7 linked regions of the Homo sapiens genome follow. The protein of the gene in region 3 interacts with the protein of the main gene of each other region in a pairwise test. Each region holds a gene or a part of one and is shown on either strand. Other genes may lie near its edges.

Region 1 (4,092 bases), on a different chromosome or scaffold from region 3:
GGAGGCCGAGGCGGGAGGATCACCTGAGGTCGGGAGTTTGAGACCAGCCTGACCAACATGGTAAAATCCCATCTCTACTAAAAATACAAAATTAGCCGGGCGTGGTGGCACATGCCGGTAATCCCAGCTACTCAGCTACTCGGAAGGCTGAGGCAGGAGAATCGCTTGAACCCGGGAGGTAGAAGTTGCAGTGAGCGGAGATCTCGCCATTGCACTCCAGCCTGAGCAACAAGAGCGAAACGCCATCTCAAAAAAAAAAAAAAAAAAAAAAAAAGTAAGTTACTCCTGGTGGCAGGAAATTTTGAAAAGCTTCCTGGAGGTAGATCTCAAAAATTCAGTAGGACTGGACATAGGGAGGTGACTGGAGAAAGATCATTCTAGGAGGGAACAGAATGAATATTTCACAGTTCACAGAGTTGATATGGTAGAACAAAGGGCACTATCTTGGTCCTTCTGCTATAATGCTTGGGTCAACTACTTGACTGGCTGTTCCAACTAAGGAACAAAGCGTTTGAAATATTTTGATTGCAACAGCAGCTTTCCAGTAAGCTGAAATACACTCTGCAGCCTACACAGAAGTACAAATCAGACAGAGAGATAAGGCAGCAAACAACACCTACTTACTTTAAAGCCTCAGCTTTCTAAGACTCAAAAAGGAAATCAGCTTCAAAGGAATTTAACATTAGCATGCCATGAAACAATTACCAGGGGTGGTTCGTATGTATTGTTTAATTAAACTTCTTTGAAAAGGTCTGGGGGCTCGTGGTGGTTCTGAGTATAATTTTTATTATTTCCATGTTACTATCCTGTCTCTCAAGTTGAAACAGACAAGCAATTGTTGAAACAGTGCTGGTCTGGAAAAAATCCTGTATCAACACAAGAAATTCCAGGAAGAAAAGACCCTGATGTTAACTGCTATTAGCTCCAGGGCCCTGGAGAATTCTGAGTTGTTGACAAACCTGTAAGGTTGAGACAGCGGATAACCTGCTGAAAGCAGAGATGAGATAAATGTGGCTGATTTGTTGATAAGTATCTTGCAAGAGTCTTTAACCCTTTGTCTTCTTTCCAATGCCTTAGTATAGCTGGGTGGTTTTCATTGTAAATCACTCAGTGACTTTTGGTGTTATTTTTAACTGTGCTGAACATTTTAAAGTTGGCTGTAACTCTTTGGGAAGGGGCCTTCAGAGGTGTATAGCAGCATTGTGAAGTAAGTCTGTATTGTAGCTAATAGTTAAAATATTTTTCTAAAATAGAAGACATTTAAGAATTGCAAGTATTGGCAAAGGGAAAAATTAAAAGCATCCATATCCTATTTATTACACTTGCCTTAAAAGTACTACTTGCTACACAGTTCTCCCCCCCCCCCCGCCCCCACCCCAGGTATCTGAGTGGAGAGAAAATTGTGTTTTAAATTGTATTTACTACTTATAAAGGACAGTGAACAATCTCCTAATGCAATTATATTTACAACCTCTTTGGAAATCCACCACAAAACTTGAGGCACACTATTATCTTAGGTGATTTCCTTGGTGAAGCTGCTTTTCAATATCTGTGATCAAAGTGAATTCTGGGCTGGGCGCAGTGACTCATGCCTGTAGTCTCACCATTTTAGGAGGCCGAGACGGGTGGATTACCTGAGGTCAGGAGTTTGAGATCAGCCTGGCCAACATGGTGAAACCCTGTGTCTACTAAAAATAAAAAACAAATTAGCCAGGTGTGGTGGTGCATACCTGTAATCCCAGCTACTAGGGAGCCTGAGGCAGGAGAATTGCTTGAACCTGGGAGTCAGAGGTTTCAGTGAGCCAAGATCATGCCACTGCCTCCAGCCTGGGCGATGGAGTGAGACTCCATCTCAAAAAAAAAAAAAAAAGTGAATTCTGGAGAGAGAATTGAAAATTGGCTCAGGGTAGCAAAAGAAAGGTAGTTACTAGGCGCTACTGTTAAAAAAAAGTTAGACATTGTTCAAATTCTGCATAAATTCTTCCTTTGACAAAAAGGAATCCCAGGAATGAAGCAATTCTGGGGAGCAAGGTGACTAATCGTTCAGAAAGTAGGAGGGATCAGGAAAGGGAAAAAAAAGAGTGAGATGGCGGGTGGCAGGGTCATGGCCCTCTGCTCTGAATGTGAGGTGTCAGTAGCACACTGGATTAAATGCACCTCTGTGTCTGTGTAATATGGCCTGTGAGCCACTTTTTGTCCAGGGCCAAGCAGATTGAGTTCGGTAAGTCCAAAAATAATTAAAGAAATCCTTCTGATTATAGTAAGTGAAATAGAATGTTAACAAAATGGTAGTTAACAACAACAACAAAAAAAACTTCACACCCCTGGAAATGTTGAGAACACATCTCTTAGGGGTGAAGTTTTGTGTGAGGGTAAAGTAAGGATGCTTCAGAATCCGTGGAACTGTAAGAAACCACAAGTAGACCCAGAGTAGCAGGGTTTGATTATGAAAGTACATTGTTCTATATGTGACAGATAAGACGCAGGAAATTACCTTAAAGGAAGGAAGACTGTTCATTTAGGCTTTTAAAAGACTGTTGTTATCTGTATGCCCTGTGCTAAGAGTTCCACAGTCATGGGAACAGAGGGTAGCTTTTGTATTAAATATTCTAGGTATTTGTAGTTCACATTTCCTCAAAGTTTTAGATAGCAACTTTACAGTTTTTTCTCATTTATTAAAATAAGCCTATACATAGTTACATTATTTTATCTTCACATTTTAACATTGATTTTACCCTACAATTGAATTCCTAGTCTGATCAATACAAATTATTAAAAGTTTTGATTTTTTTTCTCTGAGAGAACAAGCATATTATTGGCAAACTATGATAGTAATGAAATATAATAAATATGATGCTAAAACCTCTGGAGTTTATAAATCAGATGATTAATATGGCCTATAAGATGATTTATTTCCATCTCAGATGACATTCAACAAGTTTAAATTATACAATTCTGAGACAAATGTTGGACTTCAGGTATCTTGTGCATGTCTACAAATATATGAAGATAAATACCCTACTTCTCCTGAGGAAGTAAATTAGCAGTAAAAGGCAGCAATGCAAGTGGGAATAGACAATAAATTAGGAGAAAACTTTATTTTTCTATTAGAGTGAGCCACCTGGCTCCCCTGACTAGTAGAGTAAGACTACTAAACAAACTATCAAGTGCTCTCATAATAAAAACATTAAAAACCTGTTGTGTGTCTTTTCTTTTCTTTTTTTTTTTTTTTTGTTTCGCTCTTGTTGCCCAGGCTGGAGTGCGGTGGTACGATCTCGGCTCACTGCAACCTCTGCCTCCCGAGTTCAAGCGATTTTCCTGCCTCAGCCTCCCGAGTAGCTGGGATTACAGGCACCCGCCACCAAGCCCAGCTAATTTTTTGTATTTTTAGTAGAGACAGGGTTTCACCATGTTGGCCAGGATGGTCTCGAACTCCTGACCTCAGGTGATCCGCCCACCTCTGCCTCCCAAAGTGCTGGGATCTCAGGCGTGAGCCACCGCACCCGGCCTGTGTATCTTTTCTATAATGCCATTTCTGGTAATTGGATATTGGACATAAAAACAGTTGTAATGTTCTTAAAGTGTTTAAAGACAAAAGCTTGAGAGCTCAATATGTAGATTTAAATAAAAATGGACAGTTGGAAAAAAAGAAACTTAAGCATTTGAAAACACAACCTGCCATTACTATTAAAATAATTCACATATTTATATTCTTGGAATAATCAGCTTTAGACTTAATAACATTCGTTAACCTAAGCAGTCATAATCAAAGTTCTGCAATTCCTTGATTTCCAGAATTTGTGGATGAAAACCTTCATTAGAAGCTTAATGGATTATTTTTTCTGAATCTCTCAGTAAGCTATTTATGGGGTGGGTGTGGGTGAGCATCAAGCTTATTGGATCTTGATTACTCTTTTTCATTGAAGAATGAAAACAAATGGGAACTTTTCTTGACAGATAATATGAATTTATAGGCCACCAAAATATTACAGATAAATACACAAGCCATACAGATAAAAGAATGATAGTAAACATATATTATTCAAATATAGAAACAACCTTGCCAAAATGAACAAAGTCAGCTTTTCTTTT
Region 2 (4,656 bases), on a different chromosome or scaffold from region 3:
GGCACTGGAAATGGAGCTGCCAGAACTGCTGGAGCCACTGTAGCTACTGAAACCGCTGGAGTCACCCTTCCCAGTGAGGCAGGGGTCGTTAGGGGAGGTGATACGCGTGGGGTCCTTACAAGGGTCTGAGAAGGTGCCAATGCTCTTAGCCAAGGTCCCTGTGGAGGAAAGCAGTGGTTAGTAAGGGCCAAGGAGGCTTGGCTTCCTCCCTCACCTTTCTGCCTTATCTCAGTCATCGGCCTCTCGGGTTTCTCCCAAGCAGAGCGCAGGGAGAGTTTAGGGATGGAGAAAGGAGGAAGAACTGGCTATTGTCTCTAAAGGATATTGAGGTGGCCGAATAAAGGCATTTCTTTGTTTGGGAAGGGTGGGCAAACACCAACCAGAAAAATAGAAAATTAGGTGCCAAAGTGAGTGGCCTCAAAGGAATACATTGAATATAAGAGGGGGCTGGGCACAGTGGCTCACGCCGGTAATCCCAGCACTTTGGGAGGCCGAGGTGGGAGGATTGCATGCGCCCCAGAGTTCAAGACCAGCCTGGGCAACATAGACCCCGTCTGTATTTTGTTTTTTAATTAAAATTTTTTTTAAAAAGAAGAGGGAATGGAGAAGGGGCAGGAACAAGTAGGTCTAAAAGAAAGGACCCTGAAGAGACAGAGAATTGGGGAAACTGAGGCTCTGAGGAGTCCAGGCGTAAATTCTTAGGGGAAAAATCCTGGGCCAGACAGTGGGACCAAAGGGAAGAAGACAAAAGGCAAAACAATGGAGGGCTGAGAAGTGGAGACACATATAGAAGGAGACACTGGAAAAAGACAAAGCTGGGGGCAGAGGGGCTGAAATAAAGGAAAGGGCACTCGAGGACTAAGATTTGGTCACCAGCTTCTTCGTGAGAGCCCAGGCTGGGGTCAGGAATGGAAACCCTATTTCCTATCTCAGCACTGGCCATGCCAGTAAAGCTGGGTGGGGGCCAGGATGTGGGGTCACTACCTGTTGCTTCAGAACCTGCTGGTACCAGTGTGTCAGGACACCGCACCCTGAGCCAGCCCTGCTCTCGCTGGCCCAGCCCAGGGAACCAGGACGAAACCCCACGAACCTCCGAGGCTCCTGGCCACAATCAGCTTCCCTCTCTGAGCACACCTGCCTCTGTCCAGCCCCTCATCTGACTTCTGCTGCCTTGACTTCCCTCAGGGATGTGGAGCCACATCTTTCCTTATCTTTCCTTTCCTTTGCTCAAAACCCCAGGCCCAACTTACCCCGTGGTTCCTCCATGACTCTTTCACCTGCGTTCCTTCTGCCTTCCCTAGCCCCTCCAGGTCCCACGTGTTACAAACAGAGCCACATACTAGCAAGTTACTGAACCTCTCTGAGCTTTAGTTTATACATTCAGAGGGGCCAAATTTTCCCTGCCTTCCCACAGCATTACTATGAAGAAAACTAAATGAGATCATCCACCTGGAAGTTTTTTCTTCTTCTTCTTTTTTTTTTTTTTTTTTGTGAGATGGAGTTTCTTGTTGCCCAGGCTAAAGTGCAATAACACGGTCTCAGCTCACTGTAACCTCTGCCTCCTTGGTGCAAGCGATTCTCCTGCCTCAGCCTCCCAAGTAGCTGGGACCACAGGTGCCCGCCACCACACCCAGCTAATTTTTTGTATTTTTAGTAGAGAGGGGGTTTCACCATCTTGGCCAGGCTGGTCTTGAACTCCTAACCTCAGGCGATTCACCTGCCTTGGCCTCCTGAAATGTTGGGATTACAGGCACAAGCTATCATGTGCGGCCAGATGTTTTAGAAAGTGTAAAGCATTATATATTATGAATTATTACTGCCACTCATCCTGATCCCTCCACCAACAACCAGACTGCCATCCTCTGTGATGTCCCTGTTCTCTCCTCAGAAAGAAATTCTCTGCATGCACCTCCACGCCGAACCCCAGCTGTGCCAATTCCCTTCAGTCCTCTGCACGAATCCACCATGCATTGCCTCTCTCTTTCGCTATTCCCTCAGACACCAACCACCCACTAGACCATGGGAAGGTCGCAGAAATTCCTCAAGGGCTATAAGTACCCGGTGGTCAACAACACAGGTCCAGGGGTTGCCCGGCCTGGGGTTGAAATCTTGGCTTTGCTGCCTTCTAATGCATGATCTTGAGCTACTTTCCTAACTTCTCTGAGCCTCAGTGTCCTCATCTGTAGAGTGGAAATAGCAAATCTCCTTTCATACCGTTCTTGTAATGATCAAAAGTGCTAATATAGGCCGGGTGTGGTGGCTCATGCCTGTAATCCCAGCACCTTGGGAGGCTGAGGCGAGCGGATCACTTGAGTCAGGAGTTCAAGACCAGCTTGACCAAAATGGTGAAACCCTGTTTCTACTAAAAATACAAAAAAAAGAAAATTAGCCAGGTGTGGTGATGGGCACCTGTAGTCCCAGCTACTCTAGAGGCTGAGGCATGAGAGTCGCTTGAACCTGAGAGGTGGAAGTTGCAGTGAGCCGAGATTACGCCACTGCACTCCAGCCTTGGAGACAGAGTGGGACTCCATCTCACAAAAAAAAATAAAAATAAAAGTTCTAATATATAATCCAAATGTGCTTAAAACAGAGTCTAGCATATAAAAAGGCTCTAAAAATGATATTATTACTATTAAATGTCCAATCATTATCTTGTAGTGCTCCCATAATAAAAATCACCACCACCATTTATATAAACCTCTAGAATTTCCAAAGTACATATCACATACATTATTTAATTTGAGACACACAGACTAGAGTTAGGTGTCATTAACCCCACTTCAGAGTTTCAGAAACTGGGGCTCAGGAAGTTTAAGAAACTTACCTGAGGCGACCATACAGTGAGGAGCAACCCCCAGACTCAAAAGGCAGATTCCAGAGCCCCTGCCTGTCCCCTTCGCTGGGTCCTCTCCCGGAGTCTCCCTCCCGCCTCCCTCCTGTTCCCAGGGCCCCCAGCCTCCTACCTGGCAGGAGGAGACCAGCCAGCAGCAGTGCCATCATCCCGTGCCCACCCACACGCCCCATCCAGGGTGCCCGAGACGAGCCCATCTCGGACTGCACGGCCTCCTGACTGATGGCAGCTCAAGGACACCCGGGTCCTTTATGCCAGAGCTGGACATTCCCTGGGCAGGAGTCACTGTGGGGAGAGGAGGAGAGGTGGAGGGGGTGGGTGCCCCAGGGGAAGTTGGTGTGGCCGGGAGGAGCGTGGTAATCAGCCCGGTGCATCTGCCTACTCAGCAGCAGCAGTGGCTGCAGTGTGGGGTACCCATGGCCACGGGGCTCTAACGATCCTGCCACCTGACAGGCCTGGCCCCGGCTCCTCATTGCCTAACCCGGAACCAGGCGCTCTGCCCCACGGCCACCCACTCTGGGGCGGCCACTCTTGCCACGGGACCCAGCTGCCTGGCTCCTTAACTCTCCTGCCTACCGTAGCTTGGCCTGTCTCTCCATCTGCCCTCCACTCGCAGTCGTGGGTGTTTCAGCTTTTTCTTCCACACTTGGGTGCCCGCTCCAGCCCCACCCACCCAACCCCAATGAGGTCCCATTCACAGCCCCTGATCTGCTCCTTCCTTAGGACCCCATCACTCCACCTCCACTTTCCTCCTTCAAATATGAGTTCTGCCCCCATCCCCCAGGCTCCCCCTCCCACCACTCCCCAAGTACCAGGCCAGCCACATACCTATTACGTGTTCCATCACCTGGGGAACTTTCTCCTTCTCAGAAATGGGGCACCACATTCCCAAAACCAACTCCCTGACCTGTCGCTTCTGGGGGCCTCTGGGGACGGCATGGTGGCGGGGGTGGGGGGGTGCTGGGAGCCAGGGCTCAGCCAGGGGAGGGGCCTGGGCTGATGACCTCTGTCAAAGCTGGGCCTTGGTTACTCACAGGGCACTCACAGCCCCTCCCCATGGCTGGTAACCCAGACCTCAAGGGTGAGCAAGAGGCTAAGAAGGCTAATTGGGAAGGTGGTGGCCCCATAGCCCATCTGCTGGCCCTGGGCTGGATGAGCGAGCAGGAAGCAGCAGCCAGCTCTGGGCAGGTCGAGGAGGGCCAGGCAGGCTCCCGGGTCCTCAAAGGATGAAAGGAGGCCAGGAGAACCGGAGCCCTGCCATCTGCTGAGAGGGTGGTGGCTTCTCCTCCATTGCGTTGGCCTCCCTCCTGCTCTGGCCCCTGCCCCGCCCCAGCCAATTAATTGCTCACTAGTATTGCGGGAGTATCAGTATCGGAGGGAGGTGCCTGGGAGTCCAGCAAGCTGCCCTCTCCTCCCCCAGGCCTCAGACACCCCTGCTCCCCTCACCCAAACTCACTTCCCAAACCTCATCTCCTCACAAAGGCAGCTCTGTCCCTGGGCCCCTTGGCCTGGTCTCTCCCATTCCCTCTACCTCCTGACCGCCCTTTAAGTTCAGACCAGCAGGAGGATGGAAATGTTTCCTGTCTGTGCTGTCCGATACGGTAGCCACTGGCCACATGGAGCAAGTTTAACCACCAAAGATTTGGAGCTTTAATTTTAATTAATTGTAATGATGTGGTTGGCCACGTGCAGCTAGTGGCTGCCATCTAGTCTTGCTCTTGACTTGCTAGTGACACTCAGAATGGGAGTGGGAGGAAAGAGGGGCTGAGGGAGCTGTGGAGAGAGGAAGGGATAGGACAGGGTCC
Region 3 (4,092 bases):
AACACTCACCGTGAGGGTCTGTGGCTTCATTCCTGAAGTCAGCCAGATCATGAACCCACTGGGAGGAACAAACAACTCCAGACGTGCTGCCTTTAAGAGCCGTAACACTCACTGTGAAGGTCTGTGGCTTCACTCCTGAAGTCAGCAAGACCACGAACCCACCGGAAGGGAGTAACTCCGGACACATATGAACATCTGAAGGAATAAACTCCAGACACACCATCTTTAAGAGTGGTAACAGTCACCGTGGGGTCTGCGGCTTCATTCTTGAAGTCAGCGAGACCAAGAACCCACCAGAAGCAACCAATTCTGGACACATTTTGGCAACCCAGATGGGACTCTCGCCTATTGCCAAGTGATGAGTACCATCAGACCCCTTTTGCTTGCTATTCTGTCCTGTTTTTCCTTAGAATTCTGGGGGTAAATACTGGGCACCTGTCGGTCAGCTAAAAGCAACTAGCGCGGCCGCTGGACTAAAGACACAGGTGCCAGGCTTTCTGGGATAGGGCTCTCTAACAATCCCTGACTCTATGGAGTTGGGAATGTTGGTTTGCCTGGAGCCAGCTTCCACTTTAATGGTACTTCCAGGCTGAGCCGAGGGTTGACAGAGAGGAAAGCCATTCAGCTCCGGGGTCCCAACAACAAGTTGGTTGACCCTGCGGCCATGAGTGGAACTCTCAAAATCATGTCACCCAAGCGAGACTTGCCCATCTATCCTATCTCCTGACCCTTGCCTCCTGGGTCCTAATGCCTGTCAGACAAACTTCCTCTCGCCTCTCTTCTCTGAGGCTAGTCCACTTCTAAAAAGCACTCCCTGTCTCTGGTGCTTTTCTAGTTTCTCCTATAAGAATGATTTCTAGTATAAACTTCAGGACTCTTTTACCTTCTTTAGGCACCCGGGCTCACCAATCAGAAAGACATAATTTTTGCCCAAAGTCCCATCTGGGCAAGGGACTATCTGGAATTTTAGGATCCCTCTTCAGACAAGCAGGCCTAACAAAAGCTATTCCTGAAGCTAGGATATGGGGAGCTTCGGAAATGGTATCTTTCCTATTCATATAAGTGAGGACAAAAAGCATCACTCTTCCAACTCTGGAGATCCTTTCCCTCTCTCAGGGTATGTCCGTCCAGTTCATTTTTGGGGCATAACATCTTTATAGGACAGTGGTAAGGTCCCAATACTAACAGGATAATGCTTAGGACTCTAACAGCTTTTTGAGAATGCATCGGTAAGGGCCACTAAATCCAATTTTTCTTGGTCCTCTTTGTGGTCTAAGAGGACAGGCAAGAATGCAGGTTTTTGAGAATGCATCAGTAAGGGCCACTAAATCTGACCTTCCTCGGTCCTCTTTTTGGTCTAAGAGGAAAACTAGTGTTTCTGATGCTGCGTCGGTGAGCACAACTATTCTGATCAGCAGGGTCCAGGGACCGTTGCGGGTTCTTGGGCAAGAGGTGTTTCTGTTGCTGCATCAGTAAGTGCAACTATTCCAATCAGCAGGGTCCAGGGACTATTGTGGGTTCTTGGGGAGGGGTAGAAACAAACCAAGACCAAGGGTGGTTTTGTCTTTCAGATGGGAAACACTCAGGCATCAACAGGCTCACCCTTGAAATGCATCCTAAGCCATTGGGACCAATTTGACCTGCAAACCCTGAAAAAGAGGCAGCTAACTTTTTTCTGCACTATGGCCTGGCCCCAATATTCTCTCTCTGATGGGAAAGATGGCCACCTGAAGGAAGTATAAAGTACAATCCTATCCTGCAGCTTGACTTTTTCTGTAAGAAGGAAGGCAAATGGAGTGAAATACCTTATGTCCAAGCTTTCTTTTCATTGAAGGAGAATACACAACTATGCAAAACTTGCAATTTACATCCCACAGGAGGACCTCTCAGCTTACCTCCATATCCTAGCCTCCCTATAGCTCCCCTTCCTATTAATGATAAGCCTCCTCTAATCTCCCCCACCCAGAAGGAAACAAACAAAGAAATCTCCAAAGGACCACAAAAACCCCTGAGCTATCATTTATGTCCCCTTCAAGCTGTAGGGGGAGGGGAATTTGGCCCAACCCGGGTACATGTCCCCTTCTCCCTCTCTGATTTAAAGCAGATCAAGGCAGATCTGGGGAAGTTTTCAGATGATCCTGTTAGGTATATAGATGTCTTACAGGGTCTAGGGCAAACCTTTGACCTCACTTGGAGAGATATCATGCTATTAGGTCAAACTCTGGCCTTTAATGAAAAGAATGTGGCTTTAGTTGCAGCCCGAGAGTTTGGAGATACCTGGTATCTTAGTCAAGTAAATGATAGAATGACAGTCGAAGAAAGGGGCAAATTCCCTACTGGTCAGCAAGCCATCCCCAGTATGGATCCCCACTGGGACCTCGACTCAGATCATGGGGACTGGAGTTGCAAACATCTGTTGACCTGTGTTTTAGAAGGACTAAGGAGAATTAGGAAAAAGCCTGTGAATTATTCAATGATGTCCACCGTAACTCAGGGAAAGGAAGAAAATCCTTCTGCCTTCCTCGAACAGCTATGGGAGGCCTTAAGAAAATATACTCTCCTGTCACCCGACCCACTCGAGGGTCAATTGATTCTAAAAGATAAGTTTATTACCTAATCAGCCACAGATATCAGGAGAAAGCTCCAAAAGCGAGCCTTGCGCCCTGAACAAAATCTGGAGGCATTATTAAACCTGGCAACCTCGGTGTTCTATAATAGGGACCAAGAGAAACAGGCCCAAAAAGAAAAGCAAGATCAGAGAAAGGCCACAGCCTTAGTCATGGCCCTCAGACAAACAAACCTTGGTGGTTCAGAGAGGACAGAAAATAGAGCAGGTCAATCACCTGGTAGGGCTTGTATTCAGTATGGTTTGCAAGGACACTTTAAAAAAGATTGTCCTACTAGAAATAAGCTGCTCCCTCACCCATGTCCACTATGCGGAGGCAATCACTGGAAGGCTCACTGCCCCAGAGTACAATGGTTCTCTGGGCCAGAAGCCCCCAACCAGATGATCCAACAACAGGACTGAGGATGCCCGGGGCAAGTGCCAGCTCATGTCATCACCCTCACTGAGCCCCGGGTATGTTTAACCATTGAGGGCCAGGAAATTGATTTCCTCCTGGACACTGGCATGGCCTTCTCAGTGTTAATCTCCTGTCCTGGACAGCTGTCCTCAAGGTCCGTTACCATCTGAGGAATCCTGGGATGGCCTGTAACCAGGTATTTCTCCCACCTCCTCAGTTGTAACTGGGAGACTTTGCTCTTTTCACATGCCTTTCTTGTTGTGTCTGAAAGTCCCACACCCTTATTAGGGAGGGACATATTAGCCAAAGCTGGAGCTATTATCTATGAATATGGGGAACAAGTTACCCATTTGTTGTCCCCTGCTTGAGGAGGGAATCAACCCTGAAGTCTGGGCATTGGAAGGAACAAACTCAAGGTCCATCCTTAAGCCTTCCCACAGGACAAAACTTTTCTTTATACATCACAAAGAGAGCAGGAATAGCTCTTGGGGTCCTTACTCAGACTCATGGGACAACCCCACAATCAGTGACATACCTAAGTAAGGAAATTGATATAGTAGCAAAAGTCTGGCCTCACTGTTTACAGGTAGTTGTGGCGGTGGCTGTCTTAGTGTCAGAGGCTATCAAAATAATACAAGGAAAGGATCTCACTGTCTGGACTACTCACAATGTAAATGGCATACTAGGTGCCAAAGGAAGTTTATGGTTATCAGACAACCGCCTGCTTAGATACCAGGCGCTACTCCTTGAGGGACCAGTGCTTCAAGTGCATACATGTGTGGCCCTCAGCCCTGCCACTTTTCTACCAGAGGATGAGGAGCTGGTCAAGCATGGCTACCAACAGGTTATAGTCCAGACTTATGCCACCCAAGATGATCTCTTAGAAGTCCCCTTAGCTAATCCTGACCTTAACCTATATACCGATGAAAGTTCATTTGTGGAGAATGGGATACGAAGGGCAGGTTATGCCATAGTAACAGTACTTGAAACTAAGCCTCTTCCCCCAGGGACCAGCACCCAGTTAGCAGAACTAGTGGCACTTACCCAAGCCTTAGAACTGGGAAAGGGA
Region 4 (4,092 bases), on a different chromosome or scaffold from region 3:
TTAATATATATATAATATTTTTGTATATTATATATTATATGTTATAATATATATTTTTATATATTTAATATATATTTATATATTATATATTTGTATATTTAATATATAAATACATATATTTATATATTTAATATAAATATATATATAAATACATATTTTATATATAAATATATTTATATAAAATACAAATATTTTTCTATAAAATATATATTTATATATTTTATATATATATAAATATATATATATATTTTTTATATATATAAATATATATATATTTTATATATATAAATATATATATATATTTTTTATATATATAAATATATATATATATATTTTTTGAGACACAGTCTCACTCTGTCGCCCAGGCTGGAGAGCAGTGACACAGTCTCGGCTCACTGCAACCTCTGCCTCCCGGGTTCAAGCGATTCTCCTGCCTCAGCCTCCTGAGGAGCTGTGACCACAGGTGTGTGCCACCATGCTTGGCTAATTTTTTTTGTATTTTTAATGGAGATGGGGTTTCACCATGTTGGCCAGGCTAGTCTTGAACTCCTGACCTCAGGTGATCCACCCACCTCGGCCTCCCAAAGTGCTGGGAATACAGGTGTGAGCCACCACGCCCAGCCTATCCTTATTATTCTGTACCATCAAATTTCTGCTTATCTATGTTACCAATCTTTTCACCCACCTTTATTCTCTCCCTACCACTTCCATGTCTGCTCTTTTCCTGATGGGCCTCACTCTTCTGACTGAGTCAGCCTTATTTGTATCTTGACCCTGGCAGGATATCCATTTCTAAAGCCTGCTGGGATTTCCCATCCTGAGCAGGTGGAAGAGCCATTAAACCTGAAACTGCAAGGAGAGGGTCCAAGCCTGATTTGTCCGGGTAAGTGAGAGGGAAATGAGCATTCTTCTCTCAGTCACATCTTTTCCTATCTTTCTTTTATAAGATGTAAAAGTCCATTTTGCCATTCATGTTCTAAACAAATATGGGGACCAGATCCTTAAATCAACCAATTAAGAGAAAACTTAAACCCTAAGCTTCCAACTTTCATTAGGACAAGCTCAATTAATTAAATTAATTAAATTAGGATGGGTCTTTTGCGTTAGACTTAAACTGAACAGATGGCCTGCCCCATCTAGCTGCTATGATCACCCAATATTTTTAATGTAGATGCTGTATTTTACTCATTGTGTTAGTTGTTAGAGATAAAAAAAATCAAGTCATATATGGCCCTTATCCTGGAAGGACTCACAGTCTCATGGGACATGATACATAAATGTATAATTACAGAAAAATGATGAAACTGTAACAGAATGTGAATAAGACACTATGAGAACAAAGAGGAGGGAGTCTTTTCCGAGTTCTGCCTGGAGTAGTTTGAGAAAGCACTTCCCATGGTTTCATGGTGAACTTGGTGCTTGGATTGAAAGAGAAGACTATACTTCCTTTTAGTGTTGAAAAGTATGAGGAAGCTCATTCTTGCTACTGTCTGCTGCATGTGACAAGCCCAGGTTCTCAGGTATACCACTAAGGATTCCTTATTTCTGAACAGGTCCTCTGCCCTAAGTCCTGGCCTGTTCTTCTCATGGTATAAACTGTACTCAGCTACCTAGGAGGAATTCTGACTTTGTTTTCCTTAGATTCAATTCACCTGTTTTCTGAGAGCCTACCCTGGTCCTTGGTTTGGTGCCAGGAATCATAGCCCGCAGGGATTCTATCTAGTTGCTGTCTTTACTTTTGGTTTCTTTCTGTGTATTAGCCTTGTTTTTGCCATTTTCAGCTGGGACAGGGCCACTGAGACATGGGTGGCACTTGGAGAGAAGTGGACGTATTAATACCACTTGGTGACCTTAGTCGCTGTGTCATGGATAATGATGACATTTGAAGCTCCAATTTCTTTTTTCAGAGGGTGTGTTGAAGAGGAAGAAAGAAGATTTTATTCTGAAGGAGGAAATTATTGAGGAAGCACAGGACCTCATGGTCCTATCAAGTGGACCCCAGTGGTGTGGATCCCAGGAATTATGGTTTGGGAAAACCTGTGAAGAGAAAAGCAGGTTAGGGAGATGGCCTGGTTACCTCAATGGGGGACGTATGGAAAGTTCTACAAATGATATTATAGAAGTGATTGTCAAGGATGAGATGATCTCAGTAGAAGAGAGTTCAGGGAATACTGATGTCAATAACCTCCTTGGTATACATCACAAAATTCTAAATGAGCAAATATTCTATATATGTGAGGAATGCGGCAAGTGTTTTGATCAAAATGAGGACTTTGATCAACACCAGAAAACTCATAATGGAGAGAAGGTCTATGGATGTAAGGAATGTGGGAAGGCTTTCAGTTTTCGATCACATTGCATTGCACATCAGAGAATTCACAGTGGGGTGAAACCCTATGAATGTCAAGAATGTGCTAAGGCCTTTGTTTGGAAGTCAAACCTGATTCGTCACCAGAGAATACATACTGGAGAGAAACCCTTTGAATGTAAGGAATGTGGGAAGGGCTTTAGTCAGAACACAAGCCTTACGCAACATCAACGGATCCACACTGGTGAGAAACCATACACATGTAAGGAATGTGGGAAAAGCTTTACTCGAAACCCAGCCCTTCTTCGACATCAGAGAATGCACACTGGGGAGAAGCCTTACGAATGTAAGGACTGTGGGAAGGGCTTCATGTGGAACTCAGATCTTTCTCAGCACCAGAGGGTCCACACTGGGGACAAGCCTCATGAATGTACTGACTGTGGGAAAAGCTTCTTTTGCAAGGCACATCTTATTCGACATCAAAGAATCCATACTGGGGAAAGACCCTATAAATGTAATGACTGTGGGAAGGCCTTCAGTCAGAATTCTGTCTTAATTAAGCACCAGAGGCGCCATGCTAGAGACAAACCCTATAACTGTCAGATCTCTCACCTTCTTGAACATTAGAGAGTGCATAATGGTGATACTTGTTTATAATTCTTATGCTGCAGGAACCCTAGAGACAAAATGAGATGACCATTCACAATTTGCTGTAACCCTTAACTTAAATAGCCAGTATTATCTTGCCCTTTTGAACATTTACCATGTACTCTAGCAAGACTGGTCCCTCTGTTCTATGATGTTTTAACAAGGCATCATTTAGTTGGGCAGCTACTCTGTATCAGGTGCTAACCACTTTACATACATTAATTTGCATAACAATCCTATTAAGGTAGGTGCTCTTCTCCCCATTTTACAAATGAGAAATCTGAGTTGAAAGAGGTTATAAAACTCATTCAGGGTTGCTCAGTTAGTAAGTTATAGAGTTGAAATTGGAGCCAGGCCTATCTGACTGCAGAGTTTACTGTTCTTTACTTAATTGTACATATTTATGTCTCTGCCCATTTTTATTTGCTTATTTTCCTGTGCTTTTAGTTTCCCTTCATCACTCAGATCTAGCTCCTTCAACTAAGAAGATCTCTCTTCCTCTTCTACTTGTAATCAGTACCACCCAAGTTAGTATTTAATTATGTGCCATCTTATATTTTTCTAATAGTCTCATGTCTTTTAATCTTAACCCCAGCTAAATGACTCTGAGGACCAACAGTACATTTCTTTTATGTTTTTCAAATCCTGAAACATTAATCTTTGACTAGATATAACATGCTCATGATAAAAAAGAATTGAAATAGTTGAAAAGGGTGTTCAGTGAAAAGTAAATTTCCTTGTCATTCCTATCTCTTGAGTTCTCCCCAGAGGCAATCACTGCTACTGGTTGTGTATCTCTGTAGATACTCTTTGTATACAAGTGTTTATTAGTATTGCTTTTCATAATTCTGTCTCACTGAAAACCTTATTTGATGGAAGCAACATTGCAGTTAAATTGTGAACTCTAAGACCTTTTCTTCAGAAGTTGCTTTCCTTTTGAGGCCACCAAAGTAATTTAGGGAAACAGCAGAGGGTAATCCAGGTCTTTTTTTTTTTTTTTTTTTTTTTAGACAGAGTCTCACTCTGTTGCTCTGGCTGGAGTGCAGTGGTGCTATCTCAGCTCACTGCAAGCTCCACCTCCTGGGTTCATGCCATTCTTCTGCCTCAGCCTCCCAAGTAGCTGGGACTACAGGTGC
Region 5 (4,092 bases), on a different chromosome or scaffold from region 3:
AGTTTGAGTTTTTCATCTCTCCATAGTGGAAAGCCGAATAGTAATGAAGGATGGGTCTGAACTGCCTGTGAATTTTCATTCCTGGTTTAAAGTCCTGGGGGAGCCCCTCGTCCAGCCCTGTCCGCGCAGTCATGACCTCACTGCTCATGCCTGTGTTTCCCCCTCCAAACCCTAGCGATTCGTTTTGGACGAATGCCAAGATCTGAGAAAGCAAAACTGAAAGCAGAAATTCTTACCTGTGAACATGACATAGAAGATTCTGAAACTGCAGATCTCAAATCTCTGGCCAAGAGAATCTACGAGGCCTACTTGAAGAACTTCAACATGAACAAGGTCAAAGCCCGGGTCATCCTCTCAGGAAAGGCCAGTAACAATCCAGTAGGTGTTTGCGGCTGTTCTGGGTTCTCTTGGCAACATGGAACCAGTGTCGTAGAGGACGATTAAGGACACATGTGTTGAATGTTGAGAAAATTATATTTATCCCACAGTTAAGCAAAGGACAGCGAAGATGGAAACAGTTCATTCTGAGACTCTGAGCTGTAGCTTAACAACAACTCCTTTCTTCTTGCTTGGAGCCACCTCAAAGCTCTTAGCAACTAAGTTATTATACTGGCTATGTAATTAATACACTTAAAAAAAACCTTAATAGCTTACCAAGTACTAAGATGATTTCTTAGGAGCATTTTTTCTTAAATAGAGATAGGTTCTTGCTCTGTTGCCCAGGCTGGAATGCAGTGGTGCAATCATAGTTCACTGCAGCCTTGAACTCCTGGGCTCAAGCAATCCTCCTGCCTCAGCCTCCCAAGGAGCTGGGACTACAGGTGTGCACCACCACACCTGGCTATGTTTGATGTTGTTGTTGTTTTGTTTTGTTTTTGTTTTTTGGTAGAGATGAGATGTTTCCCAGGCTGGTCTCAAACTCCTGGCCTCAAGTGATCTTCCCACCTCGGCCTCCCAAAGCACTGGCATTACAGGTGTGAGTCATGGCACCCAGCATTAACTGGATTTAAAAAAAAAAAAACTGACCAGGCAAGATGGGTCATGCCTGTAATCCTGGCACTCTGGGGAGGCCAAGGTGGGCAGATTGCTTGAGTCCAGGAGTTTGATACCAGCCTGGCCAACATGGAGAAACCCCAACTCTACTAAAGATACAAAAATTAGCTGAGCAGGGTGGCACACACCTGTAATTCCAGCTACTTGGGTGGCTTAGGCATGAGAATTGCTTCAACCCGGGAGGCAGAGGTTACAGCAAGCTGAGATCATGCCACTGCACTCCAGCCTGGGTGACAGATCGAGACCCTATCTCAAAAAAAAAATAGAATAATAAAATAAATCCCTACTTTGAGGTGTATTAGTCTGCTATAAAGAAATCCCTGAGACCTGGTAATTTATAAAGAAAAGAGGTTTAATTGGCTCGTGGCCCACAAGGCTGTACAGGAAGCTTCTGCTTCTGGGGAGGCCTCAGGGAATTTGACTCATAGCAGAAGGTGAAGTGGGAGTAGGCGTCTTGCATGGCAGGAGCAAAAACAAGAGACACACACTTTTCACCCATCAGATCTTGTGAGAACGCTATCACTAGAGTAGCACCAAGAGGATGGTGCTAAACCATTCATGAAGGATCACCCCCATGATCCAGTCCCTCCCGCCAGGCCTCACCTCCACCACTGGGGATTACAGTTCACCATGAGATTTGGGTGGGGACACAGAGCCAAACCATATCATAAGGCTAGAAAAGGAAACCACTTACTTCCCACTCAAAATGTGCTCTTGGTCCTTTCTCCTAAAACTACTCCCTCCCTCTCAGACAAACATGCCTACATTCTTTTTCCGCCTTCAGTGAAAAGACAGTGACATCTTGGGGCTTAGAAAGGGCCACTTGTAAGCCAGGCGTGGTGGCTCACGCCTGTCATCCCAGCACTTTGGGAGGCCAAGACAGGCGGATCACGAGGTCAGGAGATCAAGACCATCCTGGCTAACATGGTGAAACACCATCTCCACTAAAAATACAAAAAATTAGCCGGGCGTGGTGGCGGGCGCCTGTAGTCTCAGCTACTTGGGAAGCTGAGGCAGGAGAATGGCGTGAACCCAGGAGGCAGAGCTTGCAGTGAGCCGAGATCGTGCCACTGCACTTCCAGCCTGGGCGACAAAGCCAGCTGTGTCTGGGCGCGGTGGCTCATGTCTGTAATCCCAGCACTTTGGGAGGCTGAGGTGGGTGGATCACTTGAGGTCAGGAGTTTGAGACCACCCTGGCCAACATGGTGAAACCCCATCTCTATTAAAAATACAAAAAATTAGCTGGGCATGGTAGCGGTTGCCTGTAATCCCAGCTACTTGGGAGGCTGAGGCAGGAGAATTGCTTGAACCTGGGAGCTGGAGGTTGCAGTGAGCTGAGATCGCACCACTGCACTCCAGCTTGGGCAACAGAGTGAGACTCTGTCTCAAAAAAAAAAAGAAAGGAAAAGAAAGGACCACTTGTTATAGAAAGCCTGTCTTTTAAGGTAGCTCTGGACCTTTTCAGAGGCAGCCAAATTGCCCCTCATGGTTCGTCCCCCACATCCCCGCCTGCCTGGCCTAAGTCCTCCTTCCCCCTCCCCAACAGTTAAATAAGTCTTTGTCTCCATTACAAAACAAATCTCAGAGCTACCTTCAAAGAAGAGCCAGCCCTCAGTTGGTGAATGAAGATACTTTGACATTTTCCTATGAGCATGGTGAAACAGGTTTAATTTGTATTAAATAGCTTGAAGCAATCCTTATTGGGAATTACAAGGTGGAATTTTAGTCACAGGAAAATAAAGCATTTCACAAGCTACTTACTTTCATGAACAAACCAAACCTCTTCTTTACTGAGTCCTTTAATTCTTCAGTGAATTCTCCAATTAAATAGGCCGAGACATTTTAGAAGTTTCCAGCAGACACCCACACTAGGCAGCTCCAGAGGCTTGTCCCAATTAGAACTTTCCTGGATTACGAGAGTGAAAGAAAAGGTAACTTTTAGCTTCGAGTCTCTATCCTGGATATGATTAGTACAGCCCAAAATTGGGATGGCTAAAACTTTTGTTTGCCAGCTTATATTTCTCCCTTGGATTTCAGAATTGAAAGCAGGCTGGGCACAGTGGCTCACACTGTAATCCCAGCACTTTGGGAGGCTGAGGCGGGAGGATCACTTGAGGCAATCCAAGAGTTTGAGACCAGGCAACACAAGGAGACCTCGTCTCTACAAAAAATGATTTTTTAAAAAACTAGCTGGGCATGGTGGCATGTGCCTGTGGTCCCAGGTACTTGGGAAGCTGAGATGGGAGGATGGCTTGAGCCCAGGAGTTCAAAACCAACCTGGGCAACATGGCAAGACCACATCTCTACAAAAAATAAAAACATTATCCAGGCATGGTGGCACATGCCTATAGTCCCCGCGACTTGGGAGGTTGAGGAGGATGCCTTGAGGCCAGGAGTTCAAGGCTGCAGCGAGCCACGATCGCGCCACTGCACTCCAGCCTAGGCGACAAAGCGAGACTCTCTAAAAAAAATTCGAAGCAGAGTTAAGTTGTCTTTCTTCCTAACAACCTGCCCCCACCATGGGGTGCGAATGGGACTCCTGGAGTCCTCCTGCACCTCCCCTTGGAGACCACCAAGCTCTAGGAACCCCATCACCCTCAGCTGAGGGTCACATGCAGCAACTAGCAGGCGGGAATCTGTTTGCATTTTGGCCTTAAAGAAATAAATAATAGGCCAGGCGCGGTGGCTCATGCCTGTAATCCCAGCACTTTGGGAGGCTGAGGCAGGTGGATCACCTGAGGTCAGGAGTTGGAGACCAGCCTGACCAATATGGTGAAACCCCGTCTCTACTAAAAATACAAAAATTAGCTAGGCATGGTCGTGGGCACCTGTAATCCCAACTACCCAGGAGGCTGAGGCAGGAGAATTGCTTGAACCTGGAAGGCAGAGGTTGCAGTGAGCCGAGATCACACCACTGCACTCCAGCCTGGGTGACAGAGCGAGACTCCATCTCAAAAAAAAAAAAAAAAGAGGGCCAGGCGTGGTTGCTCATGCTTATGCCTGTAATCCCAGCACTGTGGGAGGCAGAGGAGGGCGGAT
Region 6 (3,470 bases), on a different chromosome or scaffold from region 3:
TTTGACATAACAATGGAAATTAGCTTCTGAGTGAGTAAGAGCCTTAAGAGGCCAGAATCCTTGCCTATTCTTAATATTTTTTTTTTTTTGGAGATTCTAATAACGTATAGGTTATAAGATTGTAAAACCCTGGCTGTGTGTGTTAGGTCTAGTAATACATCTCAATAATCGGGAAAGATACATTAGGTAGAGATCACTGAAAATAGAGAGCCTGGAAAAGTATTTAATCACAATGGTCTGTATGAAAGCAGGAGAGTCATGTTTTCTAGATTGCTTTATACTTAAGCTTCCAATATCCTATTTTAGACTTAAAATGTGCTATATACGGGTAGTAGTTTCCAACTGTTACATCTCACAGCTCTTAATAGTTTCATGAAAATTATACTTGGACTCAAATGAAAGAATGTAGGCTTTGGCATGAAATTGATCCATAATCATCTCTAGCAGGTATATTCTATAAATTCAACAGTTAAATAATTCAGGGTAAAATCACTTCATGCGTATCACCCCGTAGCCATTCTGAATCAAGAGAAACCATATTTCCCTTGGAGGTTTTCCCTACAACATTGATCTTGAAGGCTCCATATTAAAGTTTGATTTGATTGCTTTCCATATGTTGAATATTAATAAGGATTATATATTTTTCTCAAGCAGTTTTATTACCACTATATTTAATTTTGTTGAGAGTATATAATTACTTCTTCAAGGTATGTTAGAAAATGCCATATTCCTAAAATTCTGAATTCCTTCATCCCACACCTGCCTATCATTATTGTCATTTGCTGTCACCACCCACTTCAGGATGGTCTCTTGCTTCTTGTTCTCTTCCTATTCTCTGCATGGGAACTGAGGCAGAGGCTGACTACCTGAGGTTCTTCATGTTCCTCAGCCACCTTCTACCACCTCACCCTTTCCTTGGATCTAGTTAATCTTTTAGATTATTTGCCTGTGTTGCCAGAGACTTCTGTTGATGGGAAAGGAGAAAAGCCAGCATGGTCGGAGGGTCAGAACTATATGGAGGGGAAACTGGGTGAATTCTGAGCCCACTCTGGCCTGAGTTAAAATCTTCTAAAGGCAGATCAGTATCTTGTTTGAGCCCAAAAGAGTCCTTTGATAATTTACCATGTTATTATGCTTATTGTACACATTTCCTCTTTCTCTCAGCAAACCTAGAGTACTATACATACATTATTGATTTATCTTTATCATGTTCAAATGAAAGGCCTGGTGAGTGAATTGCCTTAACAGACTTTACAAAATGAAAAATTATTAATGTGATATATTAGTGAAGTGCAGAAGCTTCACTTAAAAAGTAGAGCTGTTAGCTTTCCTAAAGAGATACTAGAAGAAAACCACAGTAGAATTTTATCCTGAGCCATTTCATGATATGACCTGCAGCCTGCACAAGTCAGTAACTATCTTGTCTGAACTGTTTATCTTTCAGGATAGCAGTGGCAGCTCCGAGTTACAAGAAATTATGAGAAGACGACAGGAAAAAATCAGTGCTGCCGCTAGTGATTCAGGAGTGGAATCTTTTGATGAAGGAAGCAGTCACTAATTTGTTTGTTTGTATTTAAACTCCATTGTTTTTGGCATTATTCCAACATGCTTTGTTTTAAGAAGCCTTGAAGGGAATGTCAGATTCATTTTTCTTGATGTAATTTATCACCATAAAAAAAAACCCATGCAAACCTGAGTGAGCACAGGATTTGCTTCTAGGCCCATTATTTTTATTAAAACTGAAAAAATTTAAACTGAATTTTTTGACCTTGGAAAATATTTTTCTTACTTTACCAAGGTGAAGTTTCCTTAATTAGACTAATTATTTTATCCCCATCCCAGGGTATAAACAGGAATTGTTTTGATAGTGGTGGAGTTATTCACTGCAACAAAGCAACAATGTTGTCCATGATTCAAAATCTAAGCAGTTTCGATTTTGCCTGTGAATATGGTGTCTGTCATTCAGGGCATAGCTCACTGTAGGCTAGCCTCTGCTTACTTAAGTCTCTTCTCTGACATACTCAATGGAAGAATATTTAGATTTATTTAAAGTTCTTAATGCCAACAGTTTAAAAAAAAATTAAAACATTTGAATGAACTGTAAAGTACAGCCATACCTTGGACATGCAAATATAAATCTATGGAGCATTCTCAAGAGAGTTTGTCATGGCTCTGTTGATTGCAACTCCTTGTATAGCTTGTATTTTGATTTAGTTTATATTCTGCTTATTATGTATACTGTGTTCTTATATATGAGAAAGCACAAATGCGAAAGAGGTCATGTCTTCTCAAAATCTAGCAAAGGAAGTAGTCTGCATTGGTGTGCATTACAGTATTTTGCTTAATGAAAGCCTCAGTTCTGAATGTTGATATGAGTAGTTAAAAGGAAGTGGGGCCATTTTATGTGTTTATCTGTGTCAAGTATTTCTGGTAATAAGAAGCACTTAATTTACACATATTTTAATCCTGTGAAAGATTCCACATAGAGAAAAGAAAGATACCTAACCTTCAACAAATGTTATTTTTGGAAACACAATTTTTGTCATTAAATGTTATATTATTTCACATATATAAAACAGATGTTATGTAAGAATGTTGTATATTTTAACATAAATCATTTAGAGAAATTATCTAGATTCATTAATTTTCATAGTGCCTTTTTCACATGAGTCAGCTGGAAAGTCTGCAATAAACAGTATTTGCTGTCTGTTAATAAATGGTTTCTGTCTCATTAGCAAAAAGGATCTGTGCTAGATCGGCTGAGGATTCGAGTTGAATGCAATGGGAAAAAGTAGAGATCCACATTTTAAAAAAACTATATATTATTCTATTTCTGAGTGGGTAGAGAAACTCTAGAATACTTTTTTCGGTTGTTTTTCTTCTTTTCGCCTCTTGTTTCATCATCTTTTCCTTCTACCATCTAGTCATATTTGGTAATGGTAATGGAACTAATTTACACTGCGCTTACGATTGCTAAATGCTTCCATATAAATGCTTTCCTGGATATTTACAACAACTCTATATGAATTATTACAGATGAGGAGATTTAGCTTCCTAGAAGCTAATTTTCCCCAGATCCTGAAGGATGTGGGAGTTTCTCATCTTCTATCTCTCGGTCTCTCTATAACACTGCCCTTTGGATAAAGTGGAACAAACATGAGCATGATAAAGGTGAATTAGTTTAGATCTTTTACATTTCATAAGGACTGATACATATGTATAATTTAGCCTTTATTGAAAGGGATAAGATGAAAGAAAATAAGATCCAAAAGTTAAGATAACCTGCGTGTAAAATAGCAGACGGATATGAAAAGAATTGGTGTAATTTACATCTTTATGCTATAAGATGCCAAAGGAATGTATCACAGAGGTAGTAATTGCAGAAAGCAGTCACATCAGCTAAGGATGTGGGGACAAAGAGAAGAGGTTCCTGGAATTTAGAATCTTGAGGGAGCAGCACCACAGAATTT
Region 7 (4,092 bases), on a different chromosome or scaffold from region 3:
GATCCACTCTAGCCTGGGTGACAGAGTGAGACTCTGTCTCAAAAAAAAAAAAAAAAAAAAAAAAAAAAAGAATTTCAGTTCTCATGCTTAATTTTTAATTTAATTATACATGGGAATTATGACAATTAAGTATCTTTTTCTCCATTCATACCATATATCTTTTTGTCTTTGCAATGGTTAGGACCTACACAATAGAAAAGCAAGTGACAAAAGCTATTCTGATCTTCTTCCTGACTCTAACATGAAGGCCTGTGCTATTTCACTGTTGGTTCTTGGTAAGTGGGCTTTATTTATTCCCCCCCTTTTATTCATGAATTCATTCATTCATTTAAAAAAATTATTAACTGCCTATCATGTGTCAGACATTATTCTAGGCATTAGAGATACAGGAGACTGGGTCCCTGTTCTCAAGGAGCTGATATTCTAGTGGTTCCTCCTGTAGTTTCTAAGCTCCGGTATCTCTTTTGATTCTAATAATCATCTTCAATTTTAAACACATACACTTCAATCTATGACCTCTCCCAGCATCAATAATTAATCAGTATCTAAAAAATTCCTGCCACTCTTCCTTCTTCCTTGCATCCCAACACTGAAAAGACTTCTATGATGTTTTTATTTTTCTCCTTCTGCCCAAACTACCTAAGTGTATTAGAGATATCTGTGTGGCATCCACATTATTTCAAGCATATTTAGGCTGCTCTTAGGTGTTACTATTGTGTAAGTCACTGCTCGATTTCTTCTGTGAACTTCCCTTCCCATCAATAAAGGTTTGTCTTGGTAATGATGAACGGGCAGGAAGTTTACAGGCTTTACTTTATGTAGTCAATGTCAAATAGAGGGAATCTGAATGCCATCAAAAGTATCTTTTTAGTATCTCTTTAGTACAGAAAATAGAATTCTGGCTGGTGACAAAGACTCATGCCTGTAATCCCAGCATTTCAGGAGGCCAAGGCAAGAAGATCATTTAAGCCCAGAAGTTTGAGACCAGCCTGGGCAACATGGCAAATCCCTGTCTCTACAAAAAATACAAAAACCTAGCTGGGTGTGTGGTGCATGCCTGTAATACTAGCTACTCAGGAGGCTGAGGTGAGAGGATCACCTGAGTCCAGGAGGTCAAGGCTGCAGGATGCTGTGATTGCGCCATGAGACTCTAGCCTGGACGGCAGTGAGAGCCTGTCTCAAAAAAAAAAGAAAAAGAAAAAGAAAATTAGAATTCCTAATAAGAAAATTTGACCATCTGAGGGTCAAATTCAGGTCTTCTCCCAAAAATGCTTCCTAAAAAATTTTAAAAGATGTGTGACATTTTCACAAGTAACTGCCATACATTTTGGTTTTGAAAACAATTCCAGACATTTAACAGAACATTAACAGTTAAGCAATTTGGCCAGGCATGGTGGCTCACGCCTGTAATCCCAGCACTTTGGGAGGCCGAGGCTGTTGGATCACCTAAGGTCAGGAGTTTGAGACCAAACTGGCCAACATGGTGAAACCTTGTCTCTACTAAAAATACAAAAATTACCCAGGCGTGGTGGTGGTGCATGCCTGTAATCCCAGCTACTCAGGAGGCTGAGGCAGGAGAATTGATTGAACCCGGGAGGCGGAGGTTGTAGTGAGCTGAGATCACGCCACTGCACTCCAGCCCGGGTGACAGAGTGAGACTCGGTCTCAAAAACAAACAAACAAAAAAATCGTTAAGCAATTCGAATTTCTTGACTCTATTTAGGCAAGTAAATATATAAAATATCTCTACATTTGATATAAATCATAAATATAAAATATCTCGACATTTGATATAAGATCATAAATATGATATATTTAGGAATAAAAAGAGAAAACTTTCCAATGGCTTCCAAAGTCTGCAAGATTCTCCAAGGTCTGGTCTCTTCCTCCTTCAAACTCTTCTTCCACTCTCCCGCTCTCTCAAACTCAACTACACAAGCCTTCATTCTGTTCTTTAAACTTACCCGTGTCTTTACAATTGCTCTAATTTCAATGTCATTCAGATTTCAGCTCAAATGTCAATTCCTCCTAGAGATGTTTCCTGACCACCATATTTAATGTTGTTACTACCCTCTCCAACATTCCCAATATCCTGATGAACATCGATGCAAAAATCCTCAATAAAATACTGGCAAACCAAATGCAGCAGCACATCAGAAAGCTCATCCACCATGATCAAGTGGGCTTCATCCCTGGGATGCAAGGCTGGTTCAACATACGCAAATCAGTAAGTGTAATCCAGCATATAAACAGAACCAAAGACAAAAACCACATGATTATCTCAATAGATGCAGAAAAGGCCTTGGACAAAATTCAACAGCACTTCATGCTAAAAACTCTCAATAAATTAGGTACTGATGGGGCATATCTCAAAATAGTAAGAGCTATTTATGACAAACCCACAGCCAATATCATACTGAATGGACAAAAACCGGAAGCATTCCCTTTGAAAACTGGCACAAGACAGGGATGCCCTCTCTCACCACTCCTATTCAACATAGTGTTGGAAGTTCTGGCCAGGGAAATCAGGCAGGAGAAAGAAATAAAGGGTATTCAATTAGGAAAAGAGGAAGTCAAATTGTCCCTGTTTGCAGATGACGTGATTGTATATCTAGAAAACCCCATCGTCTCAGCCCAAAATCTCCTTAAGCTGATAAGCAACTTCAGCAAAGTCTCAGGATACAAAATCAATGTGCAAAAATCACAAGCATTCTTATACACCAACAACAGACGAACAGAGAGCCAAATCATGAGTGAACTCCCATTCACAATTGCTTCAATGAGAATAAAATACCTAGGAATCCAACTTACAAGGGATATGAAGGGCCTCTTCAAGGAGAACTACAAACGACTGCTCAACGAAATAAAAGAGGATACAAACAAATGGAAGAACATTCCATGCTCATGGATAGGAAGAATCAATATTGTGAAAATGGCCATACTGCCCAAGGTAATTTATAGATTCAATGCCATTCCCATCAGGAATGACTTTCTTCACAGAAATGACTTTCTTCACAGAATTGGAAAAAACTACTTTAAAGTTCATAAGGAACCAAAAAAGAGCCCACATTGCCAAGTCAATCCTAAGCCAAGAGAACAAAGCTGGAGGCATCACGCTACCTGACTTCAAACTATACTACAAGGCTACAGTAACCAAAACAGCATGGTACTGGTACCAAAACAGAGATATAGACCAATGGAACAGAACAGAGCCCTCAGAAATAATTCCATCATTCCCTATCACATTATCCTGTTTTATTTCTTCAGAGAATTTATCACTATTTCTCACTATCCTACTTGTTTCATTTATCATCTGCCTCCCTCACTAAAATATATGCTCTTTGAGACCAGAAACCTCTCTCTTGTTGGCCACTATATTCGTACTTGCCAAGAGAGTCAATAAATATGTTAGAAAAATGAAGAAACACATAAAACTTTAGTTAGCACCATTACATTGTAGATAGCAGAATTTTCCTGTTATTTTAATATCAGTATCTGGCAAATATAAATTATCAGGAGTGATCTATTATTATATACATATAATTCTTTAACTATATTTAGAGTTAATACTGTTTTTTCCCCTTCAGGTATAATAAAGACTCTGAAAAAACTCTAGGACTTAAATCAAAGGTTTTTTTTTCTCCCAGGAAAATATAATTTCATAACCACCTAACAACTATAGAGACTATTAAAAAGCTTAGGAGTTCATTTTCAGTTGTAGAGACTTGAAAACATCACTATGAAATAAAAACGCTGAAACCAATCTTTGAGATTATAACAAAAATTACAAAATGAAATTAATAACTTTTCTAATGCTGAGATTCTCCATAAAGTTATACAAACTCTTGTCTTTCCAAAGAAAATCTGAATCCATTAGTGTTTTATTTCCTGAGCAGAATATACAAGATAGATTAACTGAAAGAAAGGCAACAATGGTTTAAAAAAAAAAGTACTTAAATGATAAATAAATGATAGGCTCAAGTTAAAATTACATCAGAGGGTTCATTTTCATTCTCTTGTAAGGATATGAACTTATGTTCTATGAAGGTGAAACCTTAGTGTGAAATGTACATTTTTTTCATTGTGCTTTAC

What was found.
Region 1: the proteins of CTNNA3 (region 3) and PKP2 interact in a two-hybrid assay, tested with the Homo sapiens proteins (one study listed by IntAct).
Region 2: the proteins of CTNNA3 (region 3) and CDSN interact in a two-hybrid assay, tested with the Homo sapiens proteins (one large-scale study listed by BioGRID).
Region 4: the proteins of CTNNA3 (region 3) and ZNF662 interact in binary tests that used the Homo sapiens proteins (3 or more experiments, as listed by UniProt).
Region 5: the proteins of CTNNA3 (region 3) and PPARA interact in a two-hybrid assay, tested with the Homo sapiens proteins (one large-scale study listed by BioGRID).
Region 6: the proteins of CTNNA3 (region 3) and EPS8 interact in a two-hybrid assay, tested with the Homo sapiens proteins (one large-scale study listed by BioGRID and IntAct).
Region 7: the proteins of CTNNA3 (region 3) and AKAP9 interact in a two-hybrid assay, tested with the Homo sapiens proteins (one large-scale study listed by BioGRID).

The regions. Positions count from the first base shown.
Region 1 is NC_000012.12:32,890,094-32,894,185, reverse strand, and holds part of PKP2 (plakophilin-2), read left to right. Parts: intron 1-4,092. UniProt on the Homo sapiens protein: A component of desmosome cell-cell junctions which are required for positive regulation of cellular adhesion.
Region 2 is NC_000006.12:31,117,372-31,122,027, forward strand, and holds the start of CDSN (corneodesmosin precursor), read right to left. Parts: upstream 3,076-4,656; 5' UTR 3,049-3,075; coding exon 2,964-3,048; intron 159-2,963; coding exon 1-158. UniProt on the Homo sapiens protein: Important for the epidermal barrier integrity.
Region 3 is NC_000010.11:67,686,196-67,690,287, reverse strand, and holds part of CTNNA3 (catenin alpha-3), read left to right. Parts: intron 1-4,092. UniProt on the Homo sapiens protein: May be involved in formation of stretch-resistant cell-cell adhesion complexes.
Region 4 is NC_000003.12:42,912,420-42,916,511, forward strand, and holds part of ZNF662 (zinc finger protein 662), read left to right. Parts: intron 1-781; coding exon 782-883; intron 884-1,907; coding exon 1,908-2,935; 3' UTR 2,936-4,092. UniProt on the Homo sapiens protein: May be involved in transcriptional regulation.
Region 5 is NC_000022.11:46,219,637-46,223,728, forward strand, and holds part of PPARA (peroxisome proliferator-activated receptor alpha), read left to right. Parts: intron 1-175; coding exon 176-378; intron 379-4,092. UniProt on the Homo sapiens protein: Ligand-activated transcription factor. Key regulator of lipid metabolism. Activated by the endogenous ligand 1-palmitoyl-2-oleoyl-sn-glycerol-3-phosphocholine (16:0/18:1-GPC). Activated by oleylethanolamide, a naturally occurring lipid that regulates satiety.
Region 6 is NC_000012.12:15,619,405-15,622,874, reverse strand, and holds the end of EPS8 (epidermal growth factor receptor kinase substrate 8), read left to right. Parts: intron 1-1,444; coding exon 1,445-1,558; 3' UTR 1,559-2,741; downstream 2,742-3,470. UniProt on the Homo sapiens protein: Signaling adapter that controls various cellular protrusions by regulating actin cytoskeleton dynamics and architecture. Depending on its association with other signal transducers, can regulate different processes.
Region 7 is NC_000007.14:92,003,259-92,007,350, reverse strand, and holds part of AKAP9 (A-kinase anchor protein 9), read right to left. Parts: intron 1-4,092. UniProt on the Homo sapiens protein: Scaffolding protein that assembles several protein kinases and phosphatases on the centrosome and Golgi apparatus. Required to maintain the integrity of the Golgi apparatus. Required for microtubule nucleation at the cis-side of the Golgi apparatus.